Linked DNA regions of Homo sapiens: regions 1 and 2 are each linked to region 3. The links come from fine-mapping of genetic effects on gene expression. A gene starts in region 3. Each other region holds a variant in brackets. All regions are shown on one strand. Distances are between the middles of the regions.

Region 1 (8,177 bases), 28 kb before region 3:
TTTTGAGCACAGGAGGCAGATTTCACAGCCAGTGTCAAAGCTGGGAGCAGGAAGAGTAAAGCAAACACCACGAGGCATTCATTCATTCATTCATCTATTCATTCATTCCACAGATATTTTCCCATAACGGCCACAGAGCCAGGCTGGGGAGCCTCCGTCATCCAGCCTGCTCCTTTGGGCTGCACCTGATCAAGTTTTTAGGGTGATTTGGAACCAAAATGAAATTCAGTACAATTCAGAACATATTTATTGAGCAGCAGCCATATGTTCAGCATCATCCCGGCTGCGTGGGGAATATCAAAAGGGGGGAGACATGGTGGCTGTCACCAAGGATCTCGCATCTAATTGGGGAGATAAGATACACACACAATACAAGGCAATTATGGTAAGAGCGTACATTTAAATACCACTCTCCTGTTTACCCACATTTCATATCAGCCTCTCTACATTGTTGGAGCCTCTCAACAACTTGGGGAGGGAGGGGGGCAGATATGATAAGTCTCATTTTGTAACTGAGGGATCCGAGGCTCAGCGGGGTCGGGAGGCTTGCCTCAAATCACCCAGCCATAAACAACAGCCCCGGACGTCAGCCAGGGTCGCAGGCTCCCAGCCTGTGGTGTGTTTCAACTAATCAGTTACACTGATTAAATGCCCGGTGGGGGTGGGTGGGGGGCAGCTGCCGGGGCTGGAGAGCTGGCCCTAGCCAGGCCTCCAGCGGCTCCTTTCTGGGGAAGTACAGGTCATGTCAGCCTTGCTTTGAATCCTGCCCCAGTTTTCCACCAAGGAGCCCGATGGCAGCAATGAAGGAGAGCCCCCTTCTCTTATCACCCTACTCCTGTAAGAATCCTATTCCACCTAGAGGGAAAAGAATAGGCAGTGAGTCCACTCAGGTCATCTTGAAGGCAACCCAGGGAATACGTGGCTGACTCAAGAACCCTGGACGTCACAGATTGGTGCCGATCACATGCAGACCACCATTTTACCATCAGGGCAAGCATCAATTTTAGGGTACCATGTTAACAAGGGCACAGATGATGCCAGAACCCAGCTGTCCCCAAAATCCTGGCACAGGGCAGAGCAAGCTGGGGCACACCGTGGGCACTACAGTTGAGAACCTGAAGGAATGAGCCAGGCCCGCCCTGGCTCTCCAAAGGGTGGCCTTCTCGGGCGCTCAGCCTGATTTTGCTCAATTTCTCCTCCTGCCTCTTGTGCTAAGTTAGAAGGACAGATGACATCATTCCTCCTCAGGCCCATTAACCACATGGATCGATGGCAAGAAATAAAATTTGGATTCTTCAAAAATCTCCACAGCAGATGGCCCCAGGAGACCAATTGCAACGAGATTCCTAATTAAATATAATTAAATAAGCATTAAGAGAGAGACTGATGCTCCCCTCTCCACATTACACCACTCTGTGCCAAAGAGTACAAAATTGAGAACGCCATTGTCCGCAAAAAAGCCACAAAGATCATTCAACTCCAGCCTCTGATGACCGAGCTGGGAAAACTGAGACCGGAGGGGCTACAAATTCAGCCAAGGTCTGCAGGATGTGGGGCTGACGACAAAAAGCTGACTGAGAAACTGACTCATGCACAAGTGCCCATTCTGGGGTCATGTTGTTAGCATCTAAAAGGCCCGGACACTTGCATGCTGGGCGGCCTTGGGCATGATCCTTTAGTCTCTGGGCCTCTTTTTCTTTCTTTCTTTCTTTCTTTTTTTTTTTTTTTAACTGAGTCTCACTCTGTCACCCACGCTGGAGTGCAGTGACGTGATCTTGGCTCACTGCAACCTCCGCCTCCCAGGTTCAAGCAATTCTCCTGACTCAGCCTCCTAAGTAGCATGCCACCACGCCCGCTAATTTTTGCCTTTTTAGTAGAGATGGGGTTTCATCATGTTGTCCAGGCTGGTCTCAAACTCCTGACCTCAGGTGATCCGCCCACTTTGGCCTCCCAGAGTGCTGGGATTACAGGTCTGTGTGTCTTTTCTTCTTCTAAGATCAGTGCCTTAGAAGTATGATGTGAATCACATCCATAATTTTTTATTTCCTAGCCACATTTTCAAAAAGTAAAAACAAATGGGTACACAATCAAAAGAATACAATTTTCGTTATACATTTTATATCACCCAAATCCCAGCATGTAATCAATATAAAAGTTATTGAGTACTTAACACTTTTTTTTTTCACCTCAAGTCTGAAATCTGGTGAATGTTTGACATTTACAACTTGTCTCTGTATGGACTGGCCACATTTCAAACGCAGTAACGAATGGTGACCATATTGGCCAGTGCGGGTCCAGAAGATGGGCCTGAGATAGTCTCTCACAGGTTGTTGTGAGTTGGGTTTTGTTTTTGTTTGTTTGTTTGTTTTTAAATAAACATGATGTGGCTGGGCATGGTAGCTCAGGCCTATAATCCCAGCACTTTGGAAGGCCAAGGTGGGTGGCTTGCTTGAGCCTAGGAGTTCAAGACCAGCCTGGGCAACATGGGGAGACCACATCTCTACAAAACTACAAAAAATACAAAAGAATTTAGCCAGGCGTGGTGGCATGTGCCTGTGGTCCCAGCTACCCGGGAGGCTGAGGTGGGAAGATTGCTTGAGCCCTTTCAAAGGCAGAGGCTGCAGTGAGTGGTGATTGCACCACCGCACTCCAGCCTGGGCAACAGAGTGAGAGTCTGTCTCAAAAAAAATAATAAAATAAAATAAACAATTAAGAAGATAAACATGATGTGAAATGTGCTTAGCAGCATCCTCACGTCTCATTAGCACCCAGTGAATATTAGCTACGATGATTATCAGAAAGCCAGTGTCCACACAGTTCATCCAGAAAGCACGACAGTCCATGGCTCCTATTTACCAAATCTTCTCTTTCAATTCCCTTCCACAGACACAACCCCTAACAGAACAACTGTGGGGGGAGGGATTTCTTTAGTCTCTGGGTAAAGCTATCAAAAACAAATGGCGGCTTCTCGAGCTCGCCCTTAAAGCAATCGGTGGATCCCAAGATTAAAATTCAACTGCAGCCAAATTGTGTTATAAACGGCTTCACTCCACCTGGGGTCTGGACGCCAGGCAGATGTAATCCCCTCTCCTGGGCATACACTGATGGAAACCCCGCCTCACTGCACCAGCCAAAGCCTTTAAATCAGCCGTTATTCCCGGCCTGACATGAGAGTTACAACAGGGTTTTACAGGCCCTCTGCAGGGCTCTCTAAATTTTGTGGCCGTAGCTTCCTATGGCTAGCAATCCAAATAAAAATAGTGCTATTGATCACAAAGGCATCAATAACGTCAGCCCTAAAGCTACCTGTGCACATTTCTAATTGTCCTGTCCTTTTTATGTCTTTAAATATTACCATAAGCTCTGAGAGATTCGCTACCTCTGATTGGGAAGAAGGAAATCACCCCCTCCGCTCAGTCCCAGGCATTGGAAAGCAGTGGGGAGGAAAACTCACGCGCTAGGAATAACTGTGAAGTCCCTTTTTGTAAAAAAGAAAATAAAACACTGGCTCCCATGTTGAGCTTGGCATTATAGTTCGTCAGGAAATGCCGCCCAATTATGCCTAATTTCTCATTGTTTTTCCGACCGGTTTGCGTCCCAGCAATTACGCCTCGTTCGCAGTAAGAGAAAAGTAAAATGCCCAGCTGGTAGACTGATCAGAAAGCCGACAGCCAATAAATTAATCAAGAAATAAGGAATGAATGCTGTGTTTGATGTTTGCAAATCACACA[T/C]GTGGCTCTCCAGATGCTTGGACTTAATTTTTACCACCACAAAAACCAAGAAAGAGGAAACTGGGAGTGACTCCAGCAGCTAAGCAAACCCTCCCCAGCAAAGCAACTGTTCAGCTACCTCTGGAATCTTCTCACCTTCAGCATACTGCCAAGAAAAAAGAGCACCCCCACCCACCCACAAACCCCCAAGAGCCTTAGGCATGAACCTTTCTGGGGTCCACGCAAGTGTGTGCAATGTGGAAGAAAATTATGGGCTCCAAAATTCAACAAGAAAGCCACAAAATCAAAATTAATAAATGCTTCATTAAACGCCTGCCAACTATAGCAGTGCAGCCTCCTCACTGCTTGCTGGGTGCTGTATTGATGATGTCGTCGTCATAAAAACTGCATTACGTTTGAGAAAACCATTGCAAGAATGCCTAAGGATGCCTATTGGTTGTGGGGCAAATCACAGGTAATTGCAACTTTGATGAATTACCTGCTGCTAGATAATTTAAGAAGCAAAATCATTAAACTCCTTTCAAATATTTTTACTGCAAACAAACTATAGTTAGTGTGGGCGTATTTTAATTCGTTTGATACGATGGGGAACAAGGCTGCCAAATAAAACACCCCCCTGGACCTAACAAGAGGCCAAGGTGTGTGCAGGCTTAGGCCGCTCTTCAGGTGCCCCCCGGGGCTGGGGGCCCGCTCCCTCAAACAGGTAGCTCAGGAAGCCCTAGCCATCTGCAGGGATCCGGTGGCTGTGTTCCAGTAAAGGCCAGCAAAACATGTCCAGTCTCCAAAGGGGACGGACACCATCATCTTTGGCATTCATGTCACGCTTCAAAGGCCAGAGTCCCCCGCTCCCCCTCCTGCAATGAGCCACCCGTTTCTGCCGCTGCTCTCCTGCGTGTCCACGGCTGAGGGTGCGAGCTGGTAATTACATGCTCGCTTAGGCAGGGACGCTTCCAAGCAGCGCTGGAGAGCTGATTAACCACCTGGTTTGTGGGCACAATTCAAAGGGGCACCTGGGAGGCAGGCCACAGTGACTCGTAGCACGGTTGCCAGGCGGATGTGTGCACAAGGGAAAAAAATGCTCCCGTGTCAGGACAGCTCCATGCTCTGCCTTCCCAAGGTCTCACCCACTCAGCCAAAGACCCTGGCACTTTGAAGGTTCCCTGTGGACATGAAGGCACCCTGGAAAGGGCTGTGGGACCAACAGCTCCATGAATTGCCACCAGGGTGATTTTGCGCCCTCTCACCCAGAAGCATTTGGCAATGTCTGAAGACATTTTTGGTTGTTGCAATGGGAGAAGGGGCTGCTCACAGAATCCAGTGGGTGGGAGCAGGAAGGCTACTAAACCTCCCGTGATACACAGGTCAGTCCCCACCACCCCAGTGACTCAGCCCCAAAGATCCGTCCCCACCACCCCAGTGACTCAGCCCCAAAGATCCGTCCCCACCACCCCAGTGACTCAGCCCCAAAGATCCGTCCCCACCACCCCAGTGACTCAGCCCCAAAGATCCGTCCCCACCACCCCAGTGACTCAGCCCCAAAGATCCGTCCCCACCACCCCAGTGACTCAGCCCCAAAGATCTGTCCCCACCACCCCAGTGACTCAGCCCCAAAGATCTGTCCCCACCACCCCAGTGACTCAGCCCCAAATGTCAGTCGCACATCAGTTGAGAAACTCTGACTTAGAGAACCATCCAGACCCAAGCGGCCTGCCTCTTGAAGAGTCTTTCCTGGGGACTGCTTACAACTCAGGAGGGCAGGAGAACTGAAGGTGGGGGCCCTGACAGTACACCCAGGTCTCCAGGCTGGAGGAGAAACTGTGTGGGGTCTCTTGGGTTAGAGAAAACCTCCTTTTTTTTGGCAGCCCTTGGAGCTGGATGTATTTTTGATGGAATCAGACCTCAAATGAGGTTGTGAATCACCAACTTCAAGAAGAAAGAGCTCTCCCGTTATGCCCATAAGTTAAAGACGAGGCACCTTAGTGCTCTCCTCAGGAGCCTCAAACCTCCAGCGATGGGTTCCCTGTCTTTTCTCTCTGTGAGCAACATTCCGTCCTTTCATGTAGATTTCCCTTTTAAGGAGAGTTGGTTCTGTCTGGGGCCAGTTTAGATTATTTTTTCAAATAAAAGAACATCAGAAAAGATTAATCATAGCCCGAAATGGAAAGGGACGAAGCTGCAGCCTGTCGTGACCTTCTCGTTTGCTTCGTGATAGCCTGCCTAGCCTTGGATGGAGGCCGGGGCTGGAGTGGGTGGTGATTTTTTCCAAGTGGCCCTCAGCTCTGAACCTCACTCACTGCAGTGGCTGTGATAACTTCTTGGATTTATGAATAAAGTGGCAACCTTAAAAATATTCGTTTGGAGTTTCACAATGGAAGTAGTGATGATCAACACATTCAGCCACTGTGTGATCAGATATAATTTGGGGGCTGTTGGTGGAATTGCCTTGTGTTGGCAAAGGTATGAGATTAGCACTCTGAAAAAACAATAACTAATTCCCGTGTTCCTAGGAGCAGGGTAGATATTAACTCTATTTTCCAGGAGATGAAACTAACATAGAAAGGTTAGGCAAGCTTTGCCCTGCTCCACAGAGAACTGGCCCTGGAGTGGAAATTAGGACCCCAATGTTGCGGGCACCAAACAAGGGATCAAACCTTCATCCACATGACAAATTACAGCTTGAAAAATCCCTTCATCGGTGCTCAGGCCTGACAGCACCCCATAACCACTGATTCGAATGGAAATAAGGATGGAGAAGAGAGGAGAGGGCTGCAGAGGAGAAGGTGGGAGTGGGGAGGGCCCGGATTCCCAGCAGGCATGAGAGTGTGTGAGCTGCACTGAGAATTTCCCCTGATGCGAACCTCCAGCTTTTTTCTAGTTCCAAACACCCTCCTTGTAAATAGGAGGATCTGAGAAACATCTCTGGAAGCAAAGCCCCATCAGCCAATTCCAGGGCTTACAGCTCGGCTGCAAGATGCAAGGAAGAGCCACGATGGATGATTCTTAATGGTGGGAGAGGAGTTCTGAAAAATGACCCTTTGCTTTCTTTCATAACTTTTCAGGAAACGCTGCACAATTATCCTTCTCTTTCCTTGCTTAAAAGTTGAACTGAGCCATTAACCTCAGCAAACGAACACAGGAACAGAAAACCAAATGCCGGATGTTCTCACTTGTAAGTGGGAGCTGAACAATGAGAACACATGGACACAGGGAGGGGAACAACACACACTGGGGCCTGTGTAGGGGGATAGTGGGGGAAAGCATCATGATAAATAGCTAATGCATGTGGGGTTTAATACCTAGGTGATGGGCTGATGGGGGCAGCAAACCACCATGGCACACGTTTACCCATGTAACAAACCTGCACATCCTGCACATGGATCCCGAAATGTAAAATTAAAAAAAAAATTGAACTGAAATTAATTTTTTAAAAAACGAGCTAGTTGTAAAAGAAAACCATAATGTCCCACCAGTGGGTAATTTCTTCTTGATTAAAGATGGGGGCTGTTGATAAAGCTGATGCCCACTAACTTCATAACAAATGGAGATCCATGTCTCATGCTCTTTTATGACTTGAGCCTCGTCTGGATGGGTTTTCCGTGCAAGGAGGGAACATTTTAGGATGTGATTTTTCTTGTAAGAAAGTGGAACAAAGTAAACAGGAGTGGGATCACTGGGAATTGGGGGATGGGGGTGGGTACCGTGGATGAAGGTGGGTACCATGGTGGATCAGGCTGGCAAACCCCAAAACCTCTGAGGAAGCTTAACAGACAAACAGACATCACGTGGAATGAGGCAGTACAAGTATACAATGACAACTCTGATGAATTCTTGCCAAAAAAGTCAAATATGAACATCATCAAACTTCTAGATCTTACTGAGAGCTAGCTACAGGTTTGCAGGACACACAGGGGACAGAGGAACATATCAGAAGACACCATCCCATCAGCAAAATCAAGATTATGGCAAAGGCTACAGGATGGGTGATATGGTTTCCAATAGAAAAATAAGAAAATAAAAAAGGGAATGGAGATTCACTAAAGATTTCCAAAACCAAATCAACCAAATGCAATGTGTGGATCTTCTTTGGATCTTAATTTAAACAAAGCATTTATGAGGCCATCAATGGAATTGCAACATTGACTGGGTATTATATGATATTTTAAAATGACTGTCCATTTTTGAGGCACAGTAATGGTATTACATTGTAGTGAATGACTTGTGAATGAAATGATAGGATGTGTTCACTTTAAAATAGAGGTGGGGAGAGAATATGGGAATTCAGTGAAACAAGATTGGCATGTTGATAACGGTTTAAGCTGGGAGATGGTTACATGAGAGTTTACTATATGATTCTATTTTTTATAGACTCAAAAATTTCTGCAATGAAATATGGGAATTTGATGAAACAAGATTGGCATGTTGATAACTGTGGAAGCTGGGAGATGG
Region 2 (8,177 bases), 97 kb before region 3:
ACCTCGGGAGAGGAGAAGCAGAGCAGGGTTTGGGGAGCAGACCCCCACGTCTGACAGCATACCAGCTCAGAGCATGGCGAGAATTCCAGCACAAGGTGCACACATTTTTTTGCCCATGGCTGTGGTGACCCTGCTGTGTGCCAGCCTCAGCCCCACAAGGTCACCTGAGCTATGTTCCTGGTCCCAGCTCACCCAGCCTCTTCAAGGAAGCCGTTACCTGCACCGTTTGATGGGTTAGGGCCCCTGAACCCAAACATAGCCCCTTGATCTGCCTCCACCCCACTTTCCTTGCCAGGTCTCTAAGATCTAGCATTCCGTGGGCCCCTGCCCTGCCTCCATGGCCCCAGAAGTGCCAACCATACTGGTGCCATGCTGCCTCCAGCTCCGAGCTGGGGTGTCCTATACTCAGCCAGTGGCTTCTGCCTCTCCCCTGGTCCTTTCCCCCTTTCTCTCTCCCTTTTGCATGGAAAGCATTTCACACTCATTCCTCTAAAAACAGCGTCACGGTTGGGCCCAGGCACCAACCTGAGCTCTCCCTGCCCACCTGCCTCGCTGCTCTTGGTCAGAGGAAACACATTAAGGAGAGGAAGAGCGTGTGGACAGCTGTCCTGGCTACTCTTTCCTGTACTTCCCTCAAAGCAGCCCAGCCCTGGCCTGTTGGGCCGAGGAACCGTTTGCACCCTGCAGACAGTGGGGATCCCAGGCGTGGGTTCGTGCTGCCTGCATTCTCGGAGTCCACAGGCCCGGCGGACACACACATAGTGTCCATGATGACCAGGAAAGCACACCATGGTCCGTTGTGGGGCTGTGGGTGGTGATAGTGGGGAGGGGGGGTACACTCTGGGATCAGCTTGACTGTGGGTCCCCTGCCCAACGGCCGTGAGACGCTGGCTGAATGGCTGGGCCACTAAAACCTCTGTTTCTTCATTGGTGAAATGACGATGGCTGTTGTGAGGTCACAGTGAACAAAGGCAAGCAAAATGGCTTCGCCTTGCACCCGGAGGACACTCCGGTGATTGGCAGCACATTGTTGATTGACACATATACTGCTGAGGTGGCACACACAACCACATGGTCCGTGTCTCTCATTTCTAAACAAACATGAGCTCATGCAAGGACCTGGTGCCAGGCAACTTGGATCTAGGCCCACAGTGAAGAGGATCCTGGGGCCAGAGGGGAGACGCGAGGACGAGGTAGGGGCTCACCTGCGCCAGGCACAGTTGCAAATGCCTTACGTATACCAATCACCCCCTACTCCCCACTGTGACTCTACAGGGGAGGCACAGCCATTAGCCTCATTTGACAGACAAGAATGGTGAGGCTCAGAGAGCTGAAGTCACTGCCCCAAGTCACAGAGTGAGCTAGTGGCAGAGACTCATGGAAGTTGTCCTCCAACAGAAATCCCAAACAACATGGGCTCAGGTCCGAGGTGTACTGCTTAGGAGCTTGGTGGCTTTTGGGGTGCCCCTTGCACTCCTGTGCCTCAGCTTCCTCACCTCGGGACAGAGGTGCATGTGCCCACTTCTGACTGAGCCTCCAGGGTGGAGGAGGATGAAGGGCTGCAGGGCTGCACGTTGCATATACCCCAAAGTGGCGGAGCATCCCTACTGCCTTCGGTGCCATTGGAGCACCCAGGGACGCATGGGTGAGGCAGTGAGCCGCCCGTGTAGCCTCACCTGCTAGAGACGGGAGCACATGGAGGCCCTTGTGCGGCCCTGAGCAGTCAGGTGGGTCACCCTGTGAAGAAAGGGCAAAGCAGCCTCACTAGTGACCCCGGGACCCAGGGAGGCTCCGTGCACAGGCTGCCGGGGCTACTGCTGCTGCCGGAGCCCCTCTCCCAGGCCAAGCCTCTGCCTGCTCCAGTGCGGATGTATAGGCAGATGTGTGAGGGTTGGGCTGCTGAAGTTAGGGCTCTCTGAGGCCCCTGTCATGTCAGGGCGGCTCCCAAGCAGCCTGTTCTCTGCTGCCAGCAGCATCTCCCACCCCACCGTGAGGCTGCAGCTCCCTCCTCTCATGCCCCTAAGGAGACAGGCACCCTGTTCTTTGCGTGTGCTAAAGCACCGCACCCCTATTTTTGCCTAGCTCACTCCCGCTTATCTTTCCTCCAGCCCCAGAAGGGCCCTGTTGACCCCTAGCCCCATTCTTTGCCCCCAAGACACTCTGTCCTTTCTTCCCTAGCTCAGGGCTGCTGGGAGAGCCTGATTCGTCGTCTCTCTACCCACTAGACTGCAAACTCTGAGGGACTTGTGTGTTGGGGTCTCTGGGCCCCCAGCATCCAGTGCTCTAGGAAGAATTGTGGAAGGACAGGAGGCAGTGGGGAAGGAAGGTTTCCTCTCATACCAGCCAAAGCCAGAAGGGCCCAGTGAGTGTTAATCAAAGAGTCCTCCCTGGAGGAGGTGGCTGATGGGGCCTAAGAGGTCTGGGCCCAGCCTCAGGACCCATTGTCTGCTGCTGTTGCCCAGCTTCATGTCTGATCCCCACACAAACCCTCCTGCCATTGACCTCTCCCGGGGCTGGGGCCGACACAGCCTTGGGCCACTGTGTCCCGGGAGAACCAGGGCCCGTGTCAGGCCTTTCCCTCCTTTTCACCGGCCTCATCAGGGCATTTTTGGAGAAACAAATTCCCGGCATCTCAGGGCTGTGGGCTGCTGGCGGCCAGCTTCCTGGTTTGCCCAAGACTAAAGCAGGCCCAGGGGCCTGGCATCTAATCTGGGGACCCTGATGGTGTTGGCCGGCCGCGTAATTGGCATGAGGTGGCAGCGGCAGCCACTGTGCCAGGGGACAAGTCCATGAGGCTCCTGAGTACCTGAAGTCCGGGCCTTATTTAATTTTGTCCTTTTCAATTAAAATCACCCCTCTCTCCCTTCTGCAGAAACAGACAGGCTCAGACAAACATGGAGTGAATTTCGTTCCAAGATGGTTCCCCACCACCTTTTTTCTTTTTCTTTTCCTTTTCTGTTTTCTTTTTTCTTTTTTTTTTTTTTTTTGAGGCAGGATGTTGATCTGTTGCCCAGGCTGGAATGCAGTGGCACAATCTCAGCTAGCTGCAGCCTCAACCTCCCGAGCTCAAGCAATCTTTTCGCCTTAGCCTCCCAAGCAGCTAGGACCACAGGCATATGCCACCACGGCTGGAGAATTTTTGTATTTTTTGTATACACAGGGTCTCACTATGTTGCCCAGGCTGGTCTCGAACTCCTGGGCTCAAGTGATCCTCCTGCCTCAGCCTCCCCAAGTGCTGGGATTACAGGCATGAGCCATTGCACCTGGCCTTTTTCCCATTTTCTTTCCTGAGTACATATCTCTAACCTTTCTCCCTGGAACATTAATCAGGGTCTGTGCTCTAGGAAGCTCCCACCTCTTCTTCCCTCTGTCCCTCTCTTCCTTTTTCTTTTTTTACTAGGGAATGGCCAGTGGCTGTGTCCTCAGAGGGTGGGGAGGGAGAAGCAAGCACCACACGCGGTGAATACAGCTTCAAATATCTGGAGCTTCGGGAAGCCAACGCCATCCAAATGGTGTCTTATGTTAAAGCAATAGAGGAAAAGTGAGAAAACTTTTCTACCTCCACCTCCCACCCAGCCCCCTCCTTAAAAGGAAAAAAAAAAAAGGTTTCTGTACACTCAAGTTCCCACAGTGATACAATGTAAGTTTTTAAAACAACACAAACATTGACCTTGGCAGATGGCCCCGTGGAAAGAATAGGCATTATCGACACAACGGAATGACTTAAGAAGACAAGGTGCCTCCCCAAGGAAGCAGAGAACATGGC[G/A]GCTTTGCAAGAGTCTATTCACAGGACGCCAGAGTCAACAGGCCCTGACCCCTGCGGGCCTGAGGGGGCCCCAGACAGCCCCTCCCGCAGCCGCCTCCTGGAACTCTCTGCCCTTGGGTCCTCAGGGTGCCTTCACTTGTTGATTGTGACCTTACGGATTTAAGAACCCAGCCGGGGTGTGCTTTCCGCCAGGCACGGGGGGCCACAGTGGCACCCTCTGCCCCTCAACCTGGCGGGGGACACAGGCACGCTTGGTGGCCAAGACTTCTGTCCCATTTAGGATTGAGGAGCAGATCCTGGGGAGCTAGCCAAATACTGTTAGCTGATCAGTGAAAGCTCTGGTCACTAGAAAAGAGAGAGGGAGGAAGAGGGAGGGAGGGAGGAAAAGGGGGGAAGGAGGGAGGGAGGGAGGGAGGGAGTCTTCCTCTCAAGCCAGCATGGGTCCGAAATCCAGCTCTGCCCTTTCTAACCATGAGACCTTGCAGGCGTTCCTCAAACCACGTTTGTGACACGAGAGCCAGTGACAGTTCCTGGCTTGCGGGTTGTTGGAAGGCAAAAAGGAAGCTACTGCTTTACAAACACACACTTAGGTCAGAGCCTGGCCCAAGGCTGGCACAGTGACTGTTTTACCATGGGGGAACGAGGCCAGGAAGGCATGGCAGGCAGGTGGCTCCAGGTGGGACCTGAGGGAGGCCTGCAGGTTCTGGCCGGGGGCTGTTGGCAAGAGTCCTGCCCCAGGCTCCAGCTCTCTGGAAGTGAATGTGTGTTCCCTCCATGCCCTGGGAGACACCAGGCTGGGCCAGAGCCAGTCCTGGCCTCATGGACTGTCTGCAGCACAGAGCATTTCCTAGGACCTCAGGGCCAGGAGCCCAGGCCTGTACTCATCACCTCTAGAGAGGGGGAAACTGAGGCCCAGAGAAGTCGTCACCTGCCCAGTTCAAGCTCAGTGTCCCCCACTGGCTGGAGACAGCCAAGAAACCCTGTGCAGCCCCACCTCCCTCCCCTGGCACCTCCACCTGGGGGCTCAGTGGCAGGGTGCATGCCACATGGTCTCCAGGCCTGTGCCCCATCCAGCCACGTCCCAGCCAGGCAGGGTGCTGCTGTGGCCATCCTCTCTGGGGACCGGGCAGAAGGAAGTTTCCACAGAGGTGCTCTGAGCTCACAGAGCCTGAGGGCCTCCCAGGCCTTGTCTAGTCGTCAGCTCTGATTAGTGCCACCTGTCCTGTTTATCCGGATTTGCTGCCTAATCAAATCCTGAGTCCCTTAGTCACCTTGCTTACGCGTCCAGAGGCAACAGACAAATTTTAGGAAAATGCTCCTTGCAGAGAAATGTAAGTGCCAGGGCCTGAGCAGTGTTGCATTCCTGTGCCCTCTGAAACCTCCCAGGCAGAGTCCTTTCCCTGGGTCCTGGGTAGGGGTTCCAGAAACTTCCCTGAGATATTGACACAAAAGGAATCTCTGCTGTCAGTGTCTACAGCTGTAAAATGGGATGGCAACCGCAGCAAATGACGAGCGCAGCCAAGGTCTCGGTGGGCTTCATCCCCACAACAAGCAGGTACTGAGGGCTGGCGGGGCCCTGGACTGGGAAGTGGCGGGCAGGAAGCAGGCAAGACAAAGCCCCCAGCCCATGGAGCTTGTCATCTTTCACGGGGAGAAGGACAGGAAACACGCACACAGAGAATGGTTGTTCGTGATTAGAGCAACACAAAAATGAAACAGGGATATGATGACGAGAAGACCTGGGGAGGGGAGGGGAGGGCGTGTGACGTCCACTTCACCCTGGATGGTCTGGGAAGGCCTGTCAGGGGAGGGGACGGTTGACTGGGGGACTTGGAGGCTGAGAAGGCCCCAGCCACGGGGAGAGAGTTCCAGGCAGTGGAATGGCCTGTGCTAAGGTCCTGAGGCGGGACAGGCTTGCTGTGTTCTGGAGCAGTGGGTGGCCAGTGGGCTGATGAGCAGGGATGGGCGGGCAGGCTGGACCACGTGGGGCCTCGTAAGGTCTCCGTGGGATCCCAGGAGAGCGAGTCTTCACTGTGGGTCCGGACCAGGAAAGCGAGGGGCTCACCGTCTGGGAAGTCGTGTGAAGGGGATAGACTCCTCCCTCCCCACCTCAGCCAGGTCAGGCATGGAGAGGGTAAGGGGGCAGCTGGCCGCAGTGGCCCAGGCTCCCTGCATGTGGAGCTGGGTTATGCATGGAGGACACGTTGCTCTGAAGTCAGTGCTCAGATAGGGGTGTTCCATAGAGTCCTGAGCACCCTGCCACTGTGCAAAGTGCTTCACGTGCTCGGTTGGTGCTCCTGCCCTAGGCTGGCACCCGGCCCCTCCTCTGGAGCCCAGGACAGCCCTTAGTGGTTGAGGCTAGAGCCAGACCAGATGCCCAGGAGAAGCAGTTAGGGGCCAACCTTGAACCTCACCCTTCCTTACAGTTTCCCCTCAATGAGCACCATTGACCCCCAAGTTCCTTGCATGTCATAATTAACAATCTTAATCAATAATAATCATAGCTTGCATTTACTGAGTGTTTACTGTGTGCCAGGCACTGAACTACACATACCACACAAATCAACCCATCTAATCTACACAAAACTGCACGAGACAGGTGCTCTAATTAGCTCTGCTTCCAGATGAGAGAAACTGAGGCACAGAAAAGTCAAGCAACTTGCCCAATGTCACACAGCTGGCAAGTGGCAGAGCCAGGAAGGGACCTCCAACAGTATGGCTCCTAAACCCAAGCTTGCAACCAGTCCTTCCTCTGTGACACCTGCTGTGAGTAGTAATAACAGCAAAGCAGCTGAAGTTTGCTGAGCACCTGCTGTGTTCCAGGAACCATCTTTGTAAGCTTTTGCCATTCTTCACCCCTGCAAGGAGGCTTTTAAGGCATTTTTTCCTAATAGCTCTCTCCGATGACACTTTAACGCCACAGGTATACTGGGTGTCTGTTTAGGTACTGTTCAGGTATCCATGCTTTAAATGTAAAGAGTAAAATATGTTTTTCCCCCTTGGGAAGCAAATTCCGTCCTGTTGGGACTGCATGCTCTGCCCAGATGAACTCATTCATTCCTCAACAACTCCATAGGTGAGGAGGATGATGATTCCTGTTTTGTGATGAGCCTGAGGTTCAGAGAGGTCCAGGGCTTGTCCCAGGTTGCATGGCTCGGCAGTGGTGAAGCGGCCCCACCCAAGTCCACCTGTCCTGGTGGTAATGCTGAAGTCAGTCCTCCAGCCTAGGCAGGCCACAAACCTACACCAGAATCATCTGATCTGGGGCCTCTGACCTTTCTGAAACCAAATGCCTCCATGCCCATGTGTGTGCGTGCTCCTAGAAGCAGGTGATTTCGGGAGCCCCTGACCCAAAGAGCGGTCTGGAACGGCTGTGACACTCGTGCGGGCTTCGGAAAGACAGCTTGATCCCGGCTGCGGACTGAACATAGGATGTATGTATGTGCTCTATTACCTGGCTCCATGTGCCAGGTGCTGCACCAGCCCAGGAGTTCCTAATCAGGGTTTTTCAAGCATCGGGGGTCTACAGGTGGGCTCCCTGAAATGGAAGGGGCTCATTGGAGGTGGTAGGTGCTTCTGGGAGGCCCACTGTGGCCTCTGCAGTTGGAAAACACAGTCACTGCCCCCCACCACACACCCAGACCTCCCGACTGGCACTGCACAGACACCCTGGCCCCTGTCTTTTGCAGAGAGGACGTTGAGAGCACGGGGGAGAATCGGAGCCAGGTGGGACTGGTTGACTTCCCAGGCTGGGCCCACTGACCTTCCTTCTGAGAAAAACGCTTGTGGCAAGTAAATCCAGGCCTTCGCCCAGCACCCAAAATAGCTGGCATCTCTGGCCTGGGCCTCCACGTCCTGATGAACAATGGGGCATTCTGCGGCCCCAGGCCTTCCACACAGCAAGCTAGGACCTGCTGAGCCCATCCCGACAGTGACCCCGGGCCCCAGGCCCACACATGCGACCCGAATGGCAGGTGTGGGCTGCCTGGTTTCCTTCAGCTGGGGCAGGAAGTGCCAGGCAGCAGTCTCAGCCCACGAGGCAGGGCCTGGGGCAGAAGCTAGGAGGGAGTGAAGAATGAACAGACAGACAGACAGCGAATGAGGCCAGACCCTTAATGGACCCTGGCTGGGACATCCCCCAGGAAGCTTCCCTATGATGATGGGGACAGCGCTGTGTCCTAAAGCCTCCAGGTGCTGCCTCGGTGTCTCCAGGTGCTGCTGCTGTGCCAAGGGCCACATCTCCCATGGGTGGTTTGTAATGGAGCTCAGCCACCTCTCGGTCCTCACTCCCATCCTCTCAAGCCCCTGCTTTGGGGCCTGTGGACCTTTGCAGTTCCCCCAGCTCAGGGTGCAAGTTCATGCCCTAGGACCTCGGCACTCACCGCTCCCATCCCCTGAAATGATCGTCTTC
Region 3 (8,177 bases):
TGGTGAGTGGCTAAGTGGTAGCATTATGATTTGAAGTCAGGTCTTCTGATAAACCCAGTGCTCATTCTGTGATAGTTCATTTGCTCTCTCATTAATTCACTCAGCAAACGTGCAGCGAGCCCCCACTATGCACAAGGCATGTGCTAGGCTCAGGGGTGCACCAGGCATTTCTGAAGGACAGAGACTTGCTTTCTCTGCCTCAATTTCTTCATCTGTAACATGCAGGTTGTTATAAGGATCTGGTCGACTCTGGGCCGAGCCAGCATGCTCACTCTGGAGGCAGAAATGGTCACCAAGAGGGGCCCAGCCCACCCTGGCCTGTCCCCTGCTTCATCCAGAGCTACCCCTGCCTACCCTTCTTGGCCCAGGAGGCTGCCTGGATGTTTATTTGGTTATTAGATAACCAGGCCTGGGCACCATTTCTTTGATCAGTTACCCCTGATAACAAGCAGAGGAAACAGACCATTTTATAGCAAGATTTTGTGGGGTGATCTTATGATCCCATGGTGTTTTTAACAGGGACAAGGATGAAGAGGTAGGCATTTGGAGGGGAGGGGGAAGGAAAAGAGGCCCTGCTCTGCAATACTTTCCTCCTGATTCCCCCTGGACTTTGATTCTGGGGGAAGGGGTGGTGTGGGAGATAAACGTGGAGCAAGAAGGCTGGGTCCCACTCACAGACATCTGACTCAAGGCCGCTTCCCTCACACCCAGCAAGACCCCCTGAATCCTCCCAAAACCTCACCCGCAGCAGCTCTGACCACCCAGCGAGGGCCCCTGCAGTTAACAGCCCAGGAAAGCCCAGCTACGGAGGCCAAGATGCGATAATGCCCACAGACGTGACTTAACGGCCAACACAGAGCTGAGGCTTCTCCCCAAAACAGCCTTATGATTGCTGCCGTTTCAAAAGCTCTCAAGCGATTACTCGGTAAGAAAGAGGTCAGGAACCAAGCGTATATCACCCTTCCCTGAGCAAAATGCAAGATCTGGATAACATAACTTTTTTCTTTTTTTGATTAAAAATAAATATATGTTTGAAGACAATAAATGAGTTTTAGCTTCGGTTCCTTCTTTTGCTCTTGTTTGATCTGCTTGTGAGTTGAGGACAGCCTTGTTCAAACACTATTTGTCCATTTTCTTTGCTTTTTTCTATTTGTGGGGTAAAATCTGTGTTATCTCAACAGGGTCAGCTCACCTGCATTGCGCTTCTGTTTCCTCACCTGGAAAGTGAGGAACGCTGGACCCGTCAGTCTCCAGTGCCCTTTACAGCTGCCCACACCCTCCCAAGTGTCGCCCCATCACAAGGGTGAGGATGCAGCAGGCGCAGGGCCCACCTGTAACTCTCAGCCTCAACAGCTGGGGTTTAGCTAGGATGTAGAAAAAGCACTTTTTTTTTTTGAGACAAGGTCTTGCTCTGTCACCCAGGCTGGAGTGCAGTGGCACAATCATAGCTCACTGCAGCCTCGACCACCCAGGCTCAAGAGATCCTCCCACGTCAGCCTCCCGAGTAGCCGGGACCACAGGCATGTGCCACTACACCTGGAGGATTTTTGTATTTTTTCTAGAGATGGTGTTTTGCCATGTTGCCCAGGCTGGAGAGAAAAAGTACTTTGGAGTCGTGTTTCCCCCATTATTCACACACCTCTTCGAAAAGAAGCCGTTATTATAAAACAGGCCTTTTCTTTTGGGGTCCTCAGATTTGGAAAGGAGCAGAAAACCCAGTGAGACAGGACGTGTCCTGGAGACACAGCGCGGTGGTTGGAAGCAGGGATCCGGGAGTTCTGCCACCTTCCAGCTGCCTGGCCTCAGGACAGTGGCCCAAACTCTCTGAACTCAGTTGCCCCAGTTTGTAAAATGGCCTGACCGTAATTCCCACTTCTTGTCAATTTGTTCAGGTATAAAGTACATGCATATAAAGTACTCAACCTAACTAGTGCCTGGCCCATGCCACAGTCTCAATAATTATCAGCAAATCCTCTCATTTATAAATAAGCCAGTACAACTATTAATACACAAGCATCATACTTTGTGGAAAAGTTCGTATCTCTAACAGCAGTACAATAAGTTCTGAAAATACTGAATTATGACCCTATGTAGGACATCAATGTAACACCCATTCTCCCCACAAAATGCCACTAATGCGTGAACCCCCATCAGCCGCCTGGGACTTTGAAATACCCACATCCGGAAAGCCCAGAGACTGAAGTCTCAAATGATTATGGCCAGAATAGCATGTAGTTTTAACTTTTTTTTTTTTTTTTTTGAGATGGAGTTTCACTCTTGTCACACAGGCTGGAGTGCAATGGCATGATCTCAGCTCACTGCAACCTCCGCCTCCCAGGTTCAAGTGATTCTCCTGCCTCAGCCTCTGGAGTAGCTAGGATTACTGACGCCCGCCACCACGCCCAGCTAATTTTTGTATTTTTAGTAGAGCCGGGGTTTCACCATGTTGGCCAGGCTGCTCTTAAACTCCTGACCTCAGGTGACCCACCCGTCTGGCTCTCCCAAAGAGCTGGGATTACAGGTGTGTGCCACGGCACCCGGCCTTAGCATGTAGTTTTTAAACTACCCATAATTGTAAATTTTGTACATTGAAAGACCCATAATTGCCACAAATAATCACAATTATGCAAGTATAAATAATCACCCTGCACAACTCTCCTCTTGCCCACAAAGTTATCCCTTTCATGAGAATTTAATATGTGACAATGGCCATTGTCTGCCAGGGAAAGCTCATACCGATTTCAGTTTCAGCAAGGCCACCTCGAGTCTCATAGAAACCAGAAAAAAAAAATGTCATTTTCAGGAAGCAAATTGATCGTTTTCCTCACATTTCCATTTGCGTTAAGATCATGGTGTGGCCTTGCTCTGGACTTTTTCCTATTCCCTGTTGCCTCTGGAGAGGAGGAAAGCTAAGGATGGCTGGTGGGCCCACATCGGGGGTCCCTGGGTGGATTGAAGGGCTCTTGTGGCTCCTGGAAGCCTCGCCCAAGTTTCTGGTAAGAAATCAAAAGGTGAGGTGGTGTCCCCTGTTCCCCTGTGGGATGATCAGCCCACAAAAGTGGGACAAATGAGTCTATAAAATGCTTCAGAGGGGCAGGTGGACTGCTCACTCGTGAGTCCCGGGAAACAGGCCTGGCCCAGTTCTCCAAACCTTTCCCCAGGGAGACCGCATCTCTGTCTTCTCTCTTCTTCTCTCTTCTCTCTTGTTCTCTCTTCTCTCTCTTCTCTCTTCTCTCTCCCCCTCCCTCCTCCTTCCTGGTTCTCTTTTTTCTGTTGATTTCACTCCCTCCTTTCTTTTCCCTTTCTCTTTCCTCCCCTTTCTCTCTCTTTCTCTGCCTGTTTCCCCTTTCCTCACTTTCATTTCTCTTTCTGTCTCTTTCTTTCTCTCCCTCTCTCAGGTCTCTCTTCTCTGTCTCTCTTCATCCTCAGTTTTCCCCTCTCTCCCCTCTTACTTTCTTTCCCTTTTTCCTTTTTCTTTCCATCTTCTTCCTCTCCCTCTCTGGGTTCGTGGCAACACAAGGAAACCCGCACATCCCCAGCCCGCAGCCTCGCCCCCTCGGTCCCACTGCAGTTACCCGGTGATCCATGCAGGTGGGAACAATCCAGTTAACTTTTCCCATCCGAGTGATTCTCTTTCTCTTCTTCATTCATAAATGCCATAACTCTCCCGGTCCTCCTTTCCAAGGCTCGTGCACTTGATTTCAAGGCTTGCCTGCCACCCAGGGTGCCACCAGAGTCCCAGTGCCTGGGTTGGGGGCTGGAGCGCACCCTTTGGGATCCCCCAGCCTGTCCTCCGCCTCACGGCTGCCTCGCTTCTGAGCTGCCACCCTCAGCTGACTCACTCAGATGAGATTTGGGAGGGAGGGGGGCAGGAGGAGGAGTTGCGAGAAGGAGGAAAACCCGCCTGGTCGGGTCCACACTTTGCCTAGATGCGTTTGGGTGTGGTGGGGAGCGGGTGACGGCCTCATTTACAGACAGAGGCCGGGGCTGGCTTCTAGGCGACCGGGTTGGCCACTTTCACTGCGCTTCTGGGTTTGCTGGGATCCAAGTTGACGCGACTTTTCCAGGAGTAGCTGGAAGACCTGAATAGAAACTTCAGGGGTCCCAGGACTGGCGGGGCTTAGAGGAACTCCCCGCCCCGCTTGCCCTTCCAGGGAACGGCCTGGCTAGGGGTGCGCTTTGACGCAAGGAGCGCATCGCTCTGCCTTGGCCGGGACCAGAGCTTGGGGGAGGCCTCCTTGCCCACTGCGAAGACTTTGGGGAAGGCGACGGCCAGGGGACGGACATCTGGGGGAGGGCTGGGGGTCTGAATGGCAGGAGCTGCACCAGGGGGCTGTGCGCGCTGCGCGGGTGTGCGCGCCTCGCCGGGGGCTGTCTCCACCTCTTCTGGCAAGTTGGACCTATGAGTGCGCAGCTCCGCTTACAACTATCAACAGCCGGGAAGGCTGAGCGCGTGTGAGCGCCGAGGGGGGCGCAGGACCCTCGCAACTTCTTCGCAGGACTCCAGCCTGGCCGCCGGCGCCCGCAGCCGTCCGAGAGCCCTGCGCCCGCGCCTCCCCTTGCGCACCGTGGCAGCGCCCGGCGGGCGGTCCTGCCAGCCCCGACGGGATGCCCGCAGCCATGCTCCCCTACGCTTGCGTCCTGGTGCTTTTGGGAGGTAGGTGCCACCCTCCCCCACCCGGCAAACTGGCTGAGCTCGGAAGGGAGGGAGCTCGCCGTCTAATGTCCCCTAAGGGCCCTTGGGGACTACGGCCCTGGGTCGGCCCACGCGGCTGCTATGCTGCGCCCTGCGCGCCTTTCTCCAGTCTCACCTGGCCGGCACCTGCGCGCCTCCAGGAGCTTCCTGGGGCCTGCGGGAGGGAGTCGCGTCACCTCGCAATATGAGAGCCGCTGCACTCTCTGCGCCAGTCGGGGCCTGGCCTGTAGGTACCCAGAGCTGCCCTTTGTGCCGGGCCCAGTGGGACCGGGGCCTCCAAGAAGATGCAGGAGGATCCCAGGCCCACTGAGACCCCCATGGTGCGGGACAAGCCCGGCTATTCAGACCAAGGTTACTGGGGTTGTTTTTGCCCACGGAATCCTGACCTGTGCGGGGTCGGGGCTTCTTCCTGCAGCAGGACTCGGGGAGAAGCTAGGGAGCGCGCAGTGACCCCAGGCTCGAGTTGTGCCCAGCAGGCCTGACAAAGGGGACCAAGGGGCTTCAGGAACCCCTGGTAGAGTAGTCAATGCCTTCTCCAGGACTAAGGGGTTCCCTGGTGGCTCTTCGTGGGGGTGGGGAGTAGGGTAGACAAAACTGTACAAAGGCCAGCTGACTGGAGTGTGCCATCACAGGGGCCCAGTCACCACTGACAAAAATGACAGTAACCACAGTTGAAGTGTGCCCAGCTGGGGGCTCATCCCCAAGCACCCTCACATTATGAATGGCTGAGAATTCTGGCCCTGGAGTTAGACCACCTGGCTGGGAAGCCCAGATCAACATCATATCAACCCGTCTGGCTTTGGGTAAGCATGGCCATCGGCTCTCTCAGCCTTGACTTTCTTTCCTGTCAAATGGGCTCACAAAATCCCCTCCTCCGTCTGGGATGATTGTGAAGATTACGAGAGCACGTGCAGGAGGATCACTCCACTTGCTGCCTGGCACTGAGCTCATGTTCAGGGAATGGCAGCCGAGAACCCCGGGGTGAAGAGGGGCTGCGCGGTCCCACAGAGCACGCTCTGCTCCATGTATAGGCAAGGAGCAAAGTCTAAGTCACCTCGAGGAGCTCTTCAATCACAGTCTTTTCTTCCCAGCCCCCAAATTTCTAAACAAGCTGTTTTGAGAAGAACTGGCAGGGGTCTGAAGGAGGGTCAGGGGAGGGTGCCTCCGCAGTTTGAAGAGTTGCAGATTCACCTGTCGAAAGGGACATTCATCCAGGGGCCGCTTCCCCTGCCAGTCTGGGAGCGAGAGGTGACACAGCTGTCCTTGGCCACAGAGTTAGTTGATCATCAGCATGAAAATAGACCACCTCACCCCTGCTGGTTCTTTCGAAAGGGCAGGAAAATGCAAACTGGAAAGGGTGACAAGGGGGCCAGCTGTGGAAGCGCGCCTCTGCTGGGTGCTGAGATAGGGAGGACAGGATGGGGAAACCGGGTGTCCATCTGCTCTCATCCGCCTCCTCCAGGCCGTTGCACCCAGTGGGAATGGAACAGTCTAGAGTGGTGGGACACATGCCCCAGGAACCTGCAGTCTCAGTCACAGCACATGGCTGTTGTCTTTGGCAGGCCGGAGCTTCCCGTCATGCCAATGAAATCACTGTGAGTGTAGAGCCGTGGCTGGCTCTTGGGGAGTCTTGCTGCCCAGCTCCTCGGTGACCTTTCACCACAGCAAATCAGACAGATTCAACAGCAGAGAAGCCAAGAGTGCCCGGGGGCCTGACGAGAGAGGGGGGCAGCCTGCCCTCAATTCAGACACAGCCACCAGAAAGGGGGAGGGTGCCGTTCAGCCTGCCACTGCAGCTCCCAGCTCTACACCGGGCACTATTTTCCACTGAACGCTTCTTTGAAAAGCTCTTTTCACCGCTGGCTACATCACCAGGTGATGAGATCCTTTTGCTTTAGTAAAAGGAAACAGGACCCAGTTAATCCTTCAGCTACTGACATAATTTAGGTGCCTGAGCTGGGCACGCCTGAACTTCATGTCTCCAGGTTCCAGAAACTATATATATAATGGCACACCAGCCACCCCACCAAGAGAATTCAGATTGAGTACACACACGTTAGGGGTTCTTAACCTCGCCGCTATTGACATTTGGCACCAGAGGATTCTTTGTTGGGGATGAGGGGCCCGTCCTGTGCATTTTGGGGTGCTTAGCAGTATCCCTGCCCTCTTCCTACAGATGCCAGTTGCACCTCCTCCTAGTTATGATAACTGAAAATGTCTCCAGATATGACCACATGTCTCCAGGTGATAAAGTGGCCCCCAGTTGAGAATCACTGGTATGAACAGATCAAACCCAACAGGTAGTTTTTCAGACGAATCCGTCAAAATCACTGGGTTAGACGGATTTTGTTATTCTTGCTCTGAACGATCAGGAAATCAAAGGCACAGTGGGGCCCCAAGAAAAACAACATAGCTTAGGTAGTTTCTAATTTGGACGTTGATTTTTCCCATTTGCTCTCCCTCCCTCTTGTATCTGAACATGTCCGCATGGCGGCCGCAGGAGCCAGGCTGCGGTATGGGTAGTCACCCACTGCAGCGAACCTTCCTTCAAACCCTGTCAGGCCAGATGTGTCTGGTGCCAGTTCTCCAGCTGCCAGTGTTGGTTCACTCCACAGCAATTTCTGGCTTTTAAAAATCTCATTACTCAACAATTTATGCTGGAGGGGGAAAATGAGAAACCATAGCTGCTGCTTTTTTTTCGAACTTGTATTTTTTTTTTCTAATTTCAGCTCTGCTTTTATCTCTCGCTATATACTTTGCGATGGCAAGTTATCATTTACAGTCAGATTAACTAGGTCAAAATCACAAGCTATTCCATAATAAATTAGTTGATGTGGAGCTCTGCCTTGAAACCCAGAATAAAAACTAAGAAGAAAATTACTTAAATACACTCATCCAAAAATCTAATGTGAATAGAGACCCGTAATCGTATTAGTTACTTAAAACAAACAAAAAAAATTATCAATGGAGACTTCCTCTTGCTACTGTGTGAAGTGCTTCTCGAAGATGAATCACTGTGGCCAGCTGTGCCACTTATCTTCTGACCAAGGCTGTAATCTCAAAATTCAAAACAACCAGCTCCAGGCAAATACAGCAGCTTCCTTGATTTCAAAACCATCTGGATGGCAAAGCAGTTAGAAGCTACACGTGAAGAAATATTTTTGCAATATATTGGAAGTTAACTATGCTAATGAAAGCTTAAAGCCAGAATGAGCCCCTGATAAAACTTCCAAAATACAGTGGTTCACTGCCAAAACCAGCCTGGAAAATGAAGATCAATAGCCCAATGCAAAGGGAAGGAGAAGCCATTAAAATTGGTTTGAGCTTGAGGGCAGCTAAGTTGAGTTGGGGGGCTCTTGAGAAGGAAGTGAATTCTGAAGTTGGCACGGAAGGTGGTTTTGGAATTAGGCAGACCTGGTTCCCACCCTGGCTTTGTTACCTTCCTGTTCTGTCACCTGGACCCACACAGCCTCCCTGGGCA

Which allele goes with the higher level. Positions count from the first base shown, and alleles are read on the strand shown. Sizes are in standard deviations (SD) of each study's normalised expression.
For the expression in monocytes after Pam3CSK4 of the gene that starts at base 3,937 in region 3, T is the low allele of the variant in region 1 and C is the other (large effect, 0.89 SD a copy in Quach 2016).
With allele G in place of A in region 2, the expression in aorta of the gene that starts at base 3,937 in region 3 is lower (small effect, 0.39 SD a copy in GTEx).

The links.
Region 1: its variant is fine-mapped to the expression of APCDD1L-DT in monocytes after Pam3CSK4 (Quach 2016, PIP 0.95). The same link has a PIP of 0.9 or more in monocytes, monocytes after LPS and monocytes after R848.
Region 2: its variant is fine-mapped to the expression of APCDD1L-DT in aorta (GTEx, PIP above 0.99). The same link has a PIP of 0.9 or more in breast.

Annotation. Positions count from the first base shown.
Region 1 is chr20:58,539,398-58,547,574 of GRCh38, reverse strand. All of the region lies in intron 5 of APCDD1L-DT (APCDD1L divergent transcript), which reads right to left. Among named protein-coding and RNA genes, the nearest start is that of APCDD1L, 28 kb to the right of the region's middle. RefSeq lists enhancers at 1,013-1,514, 4,793-5,992. The variant T/C (reference allele first, on the strand shown) is at 3,732.
Region 2 is chr20:58,608,143-58,616,319 of GRCh38, reverse strand. All of the region lies in intron 6 of APCDD1L-DT (APCDD1L divergent transcript), which reads right to left. Among named protein-coding and RNA genes, the nearest start is that of LINC01711, 23 kb to the left of the region's middle. RefSeq lists an enhancer at 5,820-6,321. The variant G/A (reference allele first, on the strand shown) is at 3,767.
Region 3 is chr20:58,511,139-58,519,315 of GRCh38, reverse strand. It overlaps APCDD1L-DT (APCDD1L divergent transcript), which reads right to left and starts at 3,937. Exons shown (of 7, transcript NR_034147.1): 1 at 3,576-3,937. APCDD1L (APC down-regulated 1 like) reads left to right here and starts at 3,917. Exons shown (of 4, transcript NM_153360.3): 1 at 3,917-4,657. The coding sequence starts at 4,609. RefSeq lists an enhancer at 4,316-5,314.